Homo sapiens: one gene and its partner. The protein of the gene in region 1 interacts with the protein of each later gene in a pairwise test. Each region holds a gene or a part of one and is shown in the gene's direction. Other genes may lie near its edges. The genes, in order: SGPL1 and STATH.

Evidence for each region.
Region 2: the proteins of SGPL1 (region 1) and STATH interact in binary tests that used the Homo sapiens proteins (3 or more experiments, as listed by UniProt).

The regions. Positions count from the first base shown.
Region 1 is NC_000010.11:70,853,914-70,861,218, forward strand, and holds part of SGPL1 (sphingosine-1-phosphate lyase 1), read left to right. Parts: intron 1-794; coding exon 795-942; intron 943-1,874; coding exon of another isoform or gene 1,875-1,907; intron 1,908-3,700; coding exon 3,701-3,777; intron 3,778-5,457; coding exon 5,458-5,586; intron 5,587-7,305. UniProt on the Homo sapiens protein: Cleaves phosphorylated sphingoid bases (PSBs), such as sphingosine-1-phosphate, into fatty aldehydes and phosphoethanolamine. Elevates stress-induced ceramide production and apoptosis.
Region 2 is NC_000004.12:69,998,670-70,003,079, forward strand, and holds the end of STATH (statherin isoform a precursor), read left to right. Parts: intron 1-997; coding exon 998-1,018; intron 1,019-1,110; coding exon 1,111-1,140; intron 1,141-2,193; coding exon 2,194-2,280; 3' UTR 2,281-2,313; intron 2,314-3,519; 3' UTR 3,520-3,901; downstream 3,902-4,410. UniProt on the Homo sapiens protein: Salivary protein that stabilizes saliva supersaturated with calcium salts by inhibiting the precipitation of calcium phosphate salts. It also modulates hydroxyapatite crystal formation on the tooth surface.

The DNA.
Region 1 (7,305 bases):
GCGTGTATGTCTGTTGAAGGAGCTCATCACTTGCACAAGGACCAGAATCACTTTTACTGCAGCATGGCCAGTTTTCTGGCCACTGTTCCTAGTTATACCTTTGATTCTTTTACACACACACTGTAGCTGCTGCCAAGGCAGGATCAAAGTCCAAATACTGCCCTCAAGGATGTGCTGACTTTAGCAATGCCAACCAAGTGAAGCAGCAGTGATGTCAATGTGGCAGAGAAAAGGGTTATGGGGAAATTGGGTGCAACTTTTTTTTTTTTTTTTTTGAGACAGAGTCTTGCTCTGTTGCCCAGGCTGAATGGAGTACAGTGGTGTGATCTTGGCTCACTGCAACCTCCACCTCCTGGGTTCAAGTGATTCTCATGCCTCAGCCTCCCAAGTAGCTGGGATTACAAATGCCTGCTACCATGCCTGGCTAATTTTTGTATTTTTAGTAGAGATGGGGTTTCACCATGTTGGCCAGGCTGGTCTCGAACTCCTGACCTGTAATGATCTGCCCACCTCGGCTTCCTGAAGAGCTGTGATAATAGGTGTAAGCCACCGCGACCGGCTGAGTGCATCTTGACCTTTAGAGAGAAGCTTCGCTTTTCAAATTTTTAAGAGGCTATTGTACATGCCAGAAAGTAGCTGATCAGTCAGAATATCACCATATATCTTTAGGAAAAATGTTAGTTTAGTTACTTGTGCGGTGCCTAGCATTGAGCAGTTGCTTGACTGTCATAATAATTCTGCTGTCTCTACTGTACTCTTGCATCTGGATAACTTTGTCTTTCTTACCTTTGGAGATTCAAGACAAGTTGAACAAGACCAAGGATGATATTAGCAAGAACATGTCATTCCTGAAAGTGGACAAAGAGTATGTGAAAGCTTTACCCTCCCAGGGTCTGAGCTCATCTGCTGTTTTGGAGAAACTTAAGGAGTACAGCTCTATGGGTATGATGCTTGGCATATACATGCTCTCTACTTCCTTAAAGAGACAGGTTTTGTCATTGTTTAATGTTCACATAGGTTAAGAATAACTCATCATTGGTTAATACATGTTTAGGAGGGCCTACTCTCTGTTTCACAGGTTGAATTTCCTATTTTTAAAATTATGTTTAGATTCATCCTTCATCCATAAAGCAAGCAAATCTCAGAGACAGTGGAACTTGGCTTTTATTTCCTTTTGTAAGCATGAATAAAACAAATATATTTGTGTTTAAGAAGAGAGAATATAAGATATGTAATACAAATGAAATACAGATCCATGTAAAAATGTGAAATCTGCATAAAGGCACAAAAGAAAATAAGTCACTATAATTCCACTATCAAAGATAAACAGATGGTGTCTATCTTTATGCATGTAGCTATAGGTAGAGCTGTCTATATAGTTTACATCTATCTATATATGTATATCTGTCTGTTTCTGAGAATGCTAATAGTGTTTGTCTGTGTGTATACACATGTATGCATGAGCACATATGGGATGGATAAATAGACCAAATAGCTTGGTGCTTAAGAGCGTAACCCTGGAACCAGCCTGGATTCATACCTTGGTTTGCCACTTAAAGTATGCCTTTGGCGAGTTACTTCTGTATGTCACAGTTCCTGTATCTCTACAATGGGGATAGTAATAGTAGTACAGTACTTACCTGAAAAGATGATTATGGGGATTAAATGAGATCATACATGTATAAATGTTTTATAGTGCCTGGCATATAGTAAGGATTCAGTAAATGTTAAACATTATTGCTATTATTAACTCAAACAGATTTATGTTTGTTACTGATTAAGATCATATTACAAGTACTTTTTAAAAAGAAGCTTTTTAGTTTGATATATTTACAGAAAAGTAGCAAAGATGATAGAGATTTCCCTATACCCAGCTTCTCCTGATGTTAACATCCTCTATAACCATGGTACGTTTATCAAAACTAAAAAATTAACATTGGTACAGTGCTATTAACTACACTACAAATTCTATTTCTAGTTCATCAGGGTTTTTTTTTGTTTTGCTATGTTTTGTTTTAAACTAATGTTCTTTTTTCTATTCTAGGAGCCAACCAGGAGCCATGTTGCATTTTGACAAATACCCTTATTTTTTATTTTTTGAGACAGAGTCTCACTGTGTTGCCCAGGCTGGAATGCAGTGGTGTGATCTCAGCTCACTGCAACTTCCACCTTCCAGGCTTAAGCAATTCTCGTGCCTCAGCCTCCCAAGTAGCTGAGATTACAGGCGTGCGGCACCATACCCAGCTAATTTTTTGTGTTTTTAGTAGAGATAAGATTTCACCATGTTGCCCAGGTTGGTCTCGAACTCCTGAACTCAGGTGATCTGCCCACCTTGGCCTCCCAAAGTGCTAGGATTACAGGTGTGAGCCACTGTGCTCGGCCTTGACAAATACCCTTACAATTTCTAAGTGACATGTGTTGAGGTCTTGACATTGAATAGTACAAAATTTGATATAGTCTAGGATGTAGATGAATAAAGCAGTGGTTAGCACTCTAAAACCTGGTGTTAAAGATTTCCATGATTATGAGACCTGGTTGCCGCCATCATATTGCCTTCTCTTTAATGTTTAAGTCACTGTCCATTGCTGTATTCTCTAGCATCAGTAAAAGAACAGGAAATGAAACCAGTTATCTTATTTTTGAAAGGCTGGTGACCACTGGTCTGAAGCTGTGTATAGTACAGAGCAGTGTCCTCTAAGGAAAGAGTGAAAGTCAAACGGGCAGCAAGCCAGAGCTTGGCAGATTGCTGTAAGAATGAGTTTGTCTGTATATTTACCACTTAGTTTTCTGTTCTCAAGAGCTGAAGATCTTTGCTTTGGAGAGCCCTTGGCTCCATGCAGTTTTTAGTTGGTGTGTTTCCGTAATAGCTTTCTCACTACCCACTTTCAATAGGGCACAGCTGCATTGTAGCACAAGGACCTGAGACACCCATATCAACAAATTTGTGGGTAAAATGAAGAATGTCTCGGGGAGAGAGGAAAGTGGAAAGTCAGATCTTATATTCTACTCAGGAACTTTACTTTTCTTTCCACACTGGGATAAAGGAGGTTTATCCCAATGTTGACTGTGTTCCTGATCTTGAATATGCTACAGCGTGTGCTGCTGGAAGCAGGTAACTAGTTTTATGTGGGTTTCCAGGCTTGGCTTAAGGGAGCCGGCGTCTGAGACCGGGGTGCTCATGGTTTATACCTCATTGTGGTTTGTTTGCTGGTTTCATCTCTGATGATAGTGTGCTGAAATTTCACACTTTTCATTTTGCTTTCTTCTGCCAACTCTGCTCATAATAGTTCTCAAAATTCCTAGGACTGGATAGGAAAGGAGAGAAGAAGGAAGCTATTGCAGAAAAAGGCCACTCCAAAGCCATATAGAGAACAAAAAATAAGTATAGACAAAGGCAAATGTTCCTGCTGTTAGAAGGCAGTTGAGGATGAGGACAACATTATTATCAGATTGCCTTTATTGTAGCTAAATGCTATTAATATCTTTTTCACATTGCTGATAATAATGATTTTTCATCTTTATTTTATTGTGCTAACTCTATTGAACTTTTTTCTTGATTTGCTATAAGAATGCTGTTGGGTTTCCACTCAACATTTTTTTCTTTTGTATCCAGAGGAGTTTCTTCCTGTTTCTTCTTTATCAGAACCTGTCTTCCCAGAGATTCTTGCTTACTGACCAGTGACCTTACCTTTCTCTGCAGACGCCTTCTGGCAAGAGGGGAGAGCCTCTGGAACAGTGTACAGTGGGGAGGAGAAGCTCACTGAGCTCCTTGTGAAGGTGAGTGTCCAGTTCTTGAGGGAAGCCTGTGAGGTCTGTGCCAGTTTACATGACCTCCTTTTTTTCCCTTACTTTTGTAATTAGAAAAATTACTTAAGGAAAGCTTATTGGTACAATAAAACCATAAAAGTTTCTCTTCACCCAAACATAGGCGAATATGTATAATATTATCAAAGACATCTTCAGTCTGTAAAATAGTAAAATGTTATTTATGTTTTCAGTCTTTGCAGATGTCCTGTCTAGAAGGCAGATTACTAGGGAAGGTAGTCCTGTCAGATGAGATTTTTGTGGTGAGACAGATTTTGTTTGATAAGAAGAGATAAGATAGGGAAACTCTTTCATAATTTTCTCAAATCATGTGACCCAAGATGAGCAGTGGTCTCATGTATACTTCAAATAATTCTCATTCTTAGCTTCTTCCATTTCTAATCAAATTTATTTTTATTTTATTTTATTATTTTTACAGACAAAGTCTCACTCTGTCACACAGGCTGGAGTGGAGTGGTGTAATCATGGCTCACTTCAGCCTTGACCTCTTTGGCTCAAGTGATCCTCCCACCTCAGCCTCCTGAGTAGTTGGGACTACAGGCGTGCATCATGACACCCAGCTAATTTTTGTATTTTTTTGTTGGAGATGGGGTCTCACTCTGTTGCCCAGGTTGGTCTTCAACTCCCAGCCTCAAGTGATCCTCCTGCCTTGGCCTCTGAAAGTGTTGAGATTACAGCTGTGAACCACTGCACTCGGCCCTCATATTTATTTTTGAAACTCCACTTCATCATATAAAATTGGGGTTGTACTGATGATCTCTAAGGTCTTTGTGTTTGATTATTATAAATATGAAACTGTCCCTTACTAAATAAATATGGCAGGTTTTGCATAAGTTGGTGTAATGCTCTGATCTTCTGTGCTTAAAATCTTTCAGTAGCTTCCCATTATCTACAGGATGAAACTCAGGTTCTTATGCAGCAGAGAATACAAGTTTCTTCATGAGCCAGCTCCCACTTATTTTTTCTTAACTACTTCTCTTCATTTCCCACATAAACACTAATCCTGCCTTTTCTCTTTACTAAATGTGTCATGCTTTTACGTTGTTTTCCTTCCCTTCCATCATTCCTCTTGTTCCAAATGATGATTCCTACTCATCTCTCAAAGTTCCACTCAGCAGACACCTCTAGATCACTCAGGATGTTAGTTGTTCCCTCTTCAGGGTCCCTTAGCACTCTGTACACACACCTGATATTGCAGTCGATAACAACAGCTGCTTTGTGCCAGACACTCTACTAAGTGCTTCACATGCATTATGTTATTTAATTATTGCTAGAACACTAGAAGATAGCTACCATAACAACTTCTGCGTATGAAGAAACAACCTTAGATTATGTGACCTACACAGCTGAAAGTAATAGGCAAAGCTTAGACTTCCTCCTGGGTCGGTTTGGTGTTATAGTCTGCGCTTTTAACCATATTTATACTTCTTTCCTCATCACATTGTAAAATTATTTATTTACATGTCTGTCTCCTCTGCTATGTTTTGATCTTTTGGTTGAGGAATATATCTTATCTTTTTTTCCAGTTTATATTGTTGTGCCTAATACTTAGAAACTGTTGTTTAGTGCATGATTCTTTGTCCTGTATAGTGTAATAGTTTTGATTTCACATCTGCTTGCATTTTTTTGCAGGCTTATGGAGATTTTGCATGGAGTAACCCCCTGCATCCAGATATCTTCCCAGGACTACGCAAGATAGAGGCAGAAATCGTGAGGATAGCTTGTTCCCTGTTCAATGGGGGACCAGATTCGTGTGGATGTGTAAGTATATGCAAGGGGCATCCAATAGCCTTATTTTTTAGGTTAAAATAGAAGAGTTTTTAATAAATATTAATTATATTTTAAAAAATAAAAAATATTAAAAATATTTTACTACACAAGAAATATTTGATCATTGTAGAAAGGTCATTTTACTACACAAGGAATATTTGATCATTGTAGAAAGATCCTAATTAACTGCAGTTTTAAATGTTACTTGTAATTTTGTAACCTAGACAATGTCAACATTTTGGTATATATTCTTCTAGATATTTTTATTTTCACCTTTTTATTTTGAAAAACTTTGAACCTACATTGAGTTGCTAGGATGGCTTAAAGAACACCTTAGATTCACTAAATGTAAATATGTTGCCATATCTGCTCTCTACACTCTTTCCCTCCCTACCCGCTTCTTCCCTCATCCCCCACCTGCATACCTACCATTCCCCTATTTATCTGTGTATACTTTTGTTGTTCCATCCAGCAGTGTTTTTAGTGTACTTCTGGTTTTACCTGAGCCAAAGTTTAATTTATTATTTTGCTGTAAACTGAACCTCATTTAGTTGCTATTAGGCATAAAGAAAGGGGGAGGACATCATTATATTTAAAGAAACACATGAGGATTCTTTGTTTTACCTGTTCTTTCAAGTAGATGGTTGTTAGTTTTCGTAAACTATGATAGATAAACTTCTGTTTAGATCTGTTGTCTTTAGAAAAAACGAAATCTCAGGTTATGTAGGATAGATAGATTTAACTCAATATGCTGCAATGGTGTCCTAGAGGTGCTAATCCTATCAGATACTCATCATATTTGCAGTCATTATAAAGACTGCAGATTTAATTATTGAAGGGCCCATTCGAAGAGCACCTAATTTAGTTTCTTTTTTTTTTTCCAGGAAGCATTGTTTTTGTTTTGTTTTTCTAATATGTTGGCGCCATGAAAATCATCATGTTCAAATATTAGTAGTAATAAAGGTGATATGCCTGGCATTCATTTTCAAAGCAAAATACTGAAACTGTTAAAAACAGAACCACCCATAATACAGCAGCAGTTTCCCTTAGAGTACTGAGGTGAACAGGGTGACTTTCAGAGGGAAGATGATAATGTACTTACAGTATATTCTCCTATGCCATTAGACTCTTGAAGAACTTGTAAGAGGCCAGAGTGAATAGCCACAGAACAGTTTGGCCTTATCTGGTAAATTTGAAGATACATATATCTTATGACCCAGAAATTCTGCTACTAGGACATACTCTAGAAAAATTAGTACACATATATATCAGGATATATGGACATTAATATTCATAGCAATGTTATTCATGATAGCTAAAAACTGGAAGTAATTCAAATGCCTATCCACAGGACACAGATGAATAAATTGTGGAATGCTGTGTGTGCCTCAATCCATTGTAGCTCTTATTCAGATTGATGTACAAATTGCCTCATCCATCTTTGGCCAGTGGAAACATCATATTGGCTCCTAGGTCCATTTACATGACCCAAGTAATCTTTGAAAGCCTTTTTTCTCTTTCTTTCCTTTTTTTTTTTTTTTTGACGAAATATTCCAGGTTCAGGTTCACTTTGTCCATTTCCTGCTCCAGGCCTTCAATCAGCCATTTATCCAAGGAGCCCTGGTTCATTTAAAACTAGGTAAAATAATTACATAGTTCCAAAATCACATTTATGGAACAAGACAGATTAAAAAAAAAAAGTTAACCAGA
Region 2 (4,410 bases), on another chromosome or scaffold:
GTCATTATTCATCTACAGACACTAAAGTATATTTAGCTTAGTGTGAAATAAAAGAAAGTTTTACTGAACTTCTTAAATATGTGGAACTGAGAGCTTCTAAAAGTATCTTTAAACATGTAATGCTCTAGACAATCTGAAGTTAGAAATCTCAGGAATGAACTAGGTGCACTTGAGTGGAATTCAAGTATTAGAAGATGTCAAAGTAGAAATTTTCAAGTCATTCCTTGCAAAAACTAACTTAAAATTAGTATACAATTATTTAGCACACACTTTCTAAAATAAAGCTGCTTATTTTTAACTATAAAACAAAACTTCAGATCTATGACATGTTATGAGTTCCCAGCTTTTATTGTCATTTACTACTATGTATCACTAGGTAAAGCACTTGACTTCTCTGGAGCTCTTTCTTCTACTCTACTTCCTTCTATTTCTCCTGTCCCTTTTCTATGACATTAGTAGGAAACTGGCCATGAAAGAATAAAAATAGTTCAACTTACCTGGTAAATTCTAACAGATATTTCAAAAACTAATTTGATTATAAAATCACAGTATACCACATTATTTGTTATAAAAGGATAGGTGTCTAAAAAATAAAAAATAAAAATGTAAGGAAAACAGAGAAAAACATAATGCTTGTCTCTGTCAGTAAATAAAAGTTATGTGTAAGTAGCCTTTGAGCTGCTGAAAACATATTCTTATGAAAAAATACAAAGTTTCACTTTTCATTCACCAATGATAACCATTTACTCCCTTTTACACACAAAACAAGTATAAATCCAAATAAATTTATATTTGAATATAGCACACTAATTACAGAAAAGCATACTCTTAACTCATTTTAAAGATGTCATGAAGCAAAAATAACTAATTTAGTGTCTATCGATGATTTGCCTACATCCTGTTTACTCACAACTGTAGCTGCTGAGTTCATTTTTGTACTCAATCTGGAATTATAACATTAAGATACTAACTATTGTCTAATTTTCTGTTTTCTAAGGGAGCTGATTCATCTGAAGAGGTGAGTCATTTTCATTCACTGGAAAACTTGTTTTCAGTTTTGTCCTCCCTACATTTGTATTGAATTATTAAACTTTTCTTCATTTTTCACAGAAATTTTTGCGTAGAATTGGAAGATTCGGTGTAAGTGTTCTCTGATAATGCTGTGTAGTCCAAATAAATTGTGTTCTCTGATTACTTATTCTTCTAGAAGAACCAATACTTATTTCTCAAATATGTGTAGTAGTTGCAAAAGTGTGCTTTGTTTTCCTCTATTTATGATACACAGGTAACAGTCACAAATGTATTGTGTCCTAACAACATTTAAGTTGAAACTCATAGTGCCAACCTGAAGAAACCAGTTACTCCCTGAGCCCTCAAGTATCATCTCCTAAGTAATCACTTTGACCTAAAAAATAGTTGAAATTCTAATTCTGTTAATTATAATATATGCCTCATGGAGCATAAAGGCTGATAATTACACATAAAATATGGTAAGTTTGCACCTTCTGATTTTTTTTGACGGTGATAAACTCATTAAATTAAACAGGTCATGATAAATGAGATAGCAAATTTCATTTATTTAACATTTTTCTTAATGTATGTATCTTGATGTCCCAGTATGTTGACATATAATGTCAATGTGATAGGGTTGCAAAAGATCCCCTAACTAATATAGTGAATACATGGATTAAAATAACACCAAATAAAAAGATACTCTAAAAGGGATGATGGTTATTTGTGTTAACAGAAGGAAGAAGTATTAAGGAATGTAGGAATCGTAAGAGACAGTAAGCTCATTAAAAGAGTGACTTGAAGAAACACCACATAAGCTGAATTTAGTAAATGTCTCCTTCCCATAATACTCAAAGGTGGGCAAAATGGTTGCTGGGAGGTAGTATTTTGAAGAAAATTTAAAACCTCTTTGGAGTGATAGCCTATAATCGGTGTTCCTGCATGTGAAATAAAACCACAAAACTGTGAACATGCAGTACAAAGGTAAACACTCAATCATTTTTACCTGCTTTTAAAATGTGTTTATAACCAAAAAGAAAAATCTAATTGAAAGTTTGGAAAAAAATCTTATAAGTAATATGTAAGTTCCTAAAACTTTAACAATCTAAGCTTCTAATAAAAACGCTTGCACTGTCATTATCTCAATTTTCTGCAATTTTCTTTCTCCTTGTGTGTATACAGTATGGGTATGGCCCTTATCAGCCAGTTCCAGAACAACCACTATACCCACAACCATACCAACCACAATACCAACAATATACCTTTTAATATCATCAGTAACTGCAGGACATGATTATTGAGGTAAGATGGGTTTAGTGACATTTTTTTTACTTTCTGTATCAGTGCTGACAGTTAAAAGAAGAAAAACAAAAACAAGACATTAAACCAACAGCAGTTCCAGTATAAGAAAGCAGCCAGCTGTATAGCTCCTTGAAATGTATTAATTTATATAAATGCTTCTGAGATAGTCTCTGTCCTGCTATGGTTAGAAGGCAGTGTTATAGAGTGGGGGACACCAGGGTTTGTATGCTGGCCCTGACAACTACTAGTTTCATGACTTTGAACTACTCCTAATGCTCCTGAACCTCAGTTTTCTCGTCAAAAAATTGTGTATTATGATAACACTTAAATGTGCTTTTTAGAATTGGTGACACTTTTGAAAGACATATCACATAAAATCTCTTGATCAGAAAGGTTTGTAGTTATAACTGCAGGGCTTCCCTGCCACTAAATCTGTACCTAGGTGTTGCTTAAAGTTTTCACTCCCAAAATGCAATCTTTGGAGAAGCTTCCATCTGGGAACCATCTGGGAACTTGTGAGAAATTTGCATTTTGTACCCTAAGTAACTCTACTGAGCAATTACTATAGAAATTATTAACATAATGCTAACAAGAAAATATGGAAATGTTATCAATTTCTTTTTAGAAAGTCAGTTTTACCTATCTCTACACAACATTAAATGTTCTAAATTCTATGAAAAAATAATATTTCAAAACAAAATAGAGCAAACTCTTGGAGATAAGGGAGGATTGTTCTACAAAGTTAAAATAGTCCAAAGGATTTCAATTATTTTTCAGTGCATTTGGGAGATTATATTCCAATTCAATTCTCTATTGCCATTAGTGATACAGGGAAGAGCCTGAACTTGATCCCCTAGGTTTTAGGTAATAGCTGATGACATTTAATCAAGAAAAGATGTATTGAAATATTATTTAGAGGAAATGCATATAAATGAAATGTGTAGGCTATATTTAAGTAGAAGAATAAAATAGTATGATGATTGAAAAATAATTTAAATTGTAGATGCTGAATGATAATTTTTATTTATTCAGGAACCAATTTAATAATTGTTTAATTGTCTACTCTGTGTCAAATATTATTTTGGGCCCTGCATTTTATAAACTATAATTGTATATAATATCTACTCTGTACCAGGCCAGAATATAAATGTGTTTACAGGGGTAAAAATTTTACAGATAATCTGTTATTTTTTTTTTTCTGTGCAGGCTTGATTGGCAAATACGACTTCTACATCCATATTCTCATCTTTCATACCATATCACACTACTACCACTTTTTGAAGAATCATCAAAGAGCAATGCAAATGAAAAACACTATAATTTACTGTATACTCTTTGTTTCAGGATACTTGCCTTTTCAATTGTCACTTGATGATATAATTGCAATTTAAACTGTTAAGCTGTGTTCAGTACTGTTTCTGAATAATAGAAATCACTTCTCTAAAAGCAATAAATTTCAAGCACATTTTTACATGTATGCTCCTTATTTTTCTCTTTTCTATTTATAGGAATAATGATTTCTTTCATCATCTTCTTTCCCAGTTTGACTAGCACAGATTGAAGCCCATAATGTCAGAGGTCCTTATTTATAATTTAGTCTGTCATATTTTATATGTTACAAACATGGTACTCAAACTCACTTATTATTAGAGCTATTTATGCCAAGATTTGATTTGCCCATGGTTTCCTTTGCCACACCACAGTTGCTAAGCCTCCAAAGCACTCACATTTTTTATCTCAGTCCCTGTAGGTCAGAAGATAACCACCATGTCACTCTACAGCAGTATGTAGGCACTCTGCATGTAAACCATCTAATGCCCTCCATTAGTTTTTCAGCAATGACTTTTATTCAAGAAATATTTATTGAATGACCCCAGCTGTCAGGTCCTCTTCTAGATGCTGCAGACAAAGAGAGACAAAAGTCCTGTCTTTGGAGAGTTTACATTGTAGTTGGGAGATGCAGATACAAAGTAAATAAATAGTACATATCTTAGGCAATGATAAGTGTGCTAAAGAAGTATAAGCATGTCTAGGGCACAGAAACAAATTTAAACAGGATAGTCAACAAGAGACTCTCTGACATAGTGACATTTTATG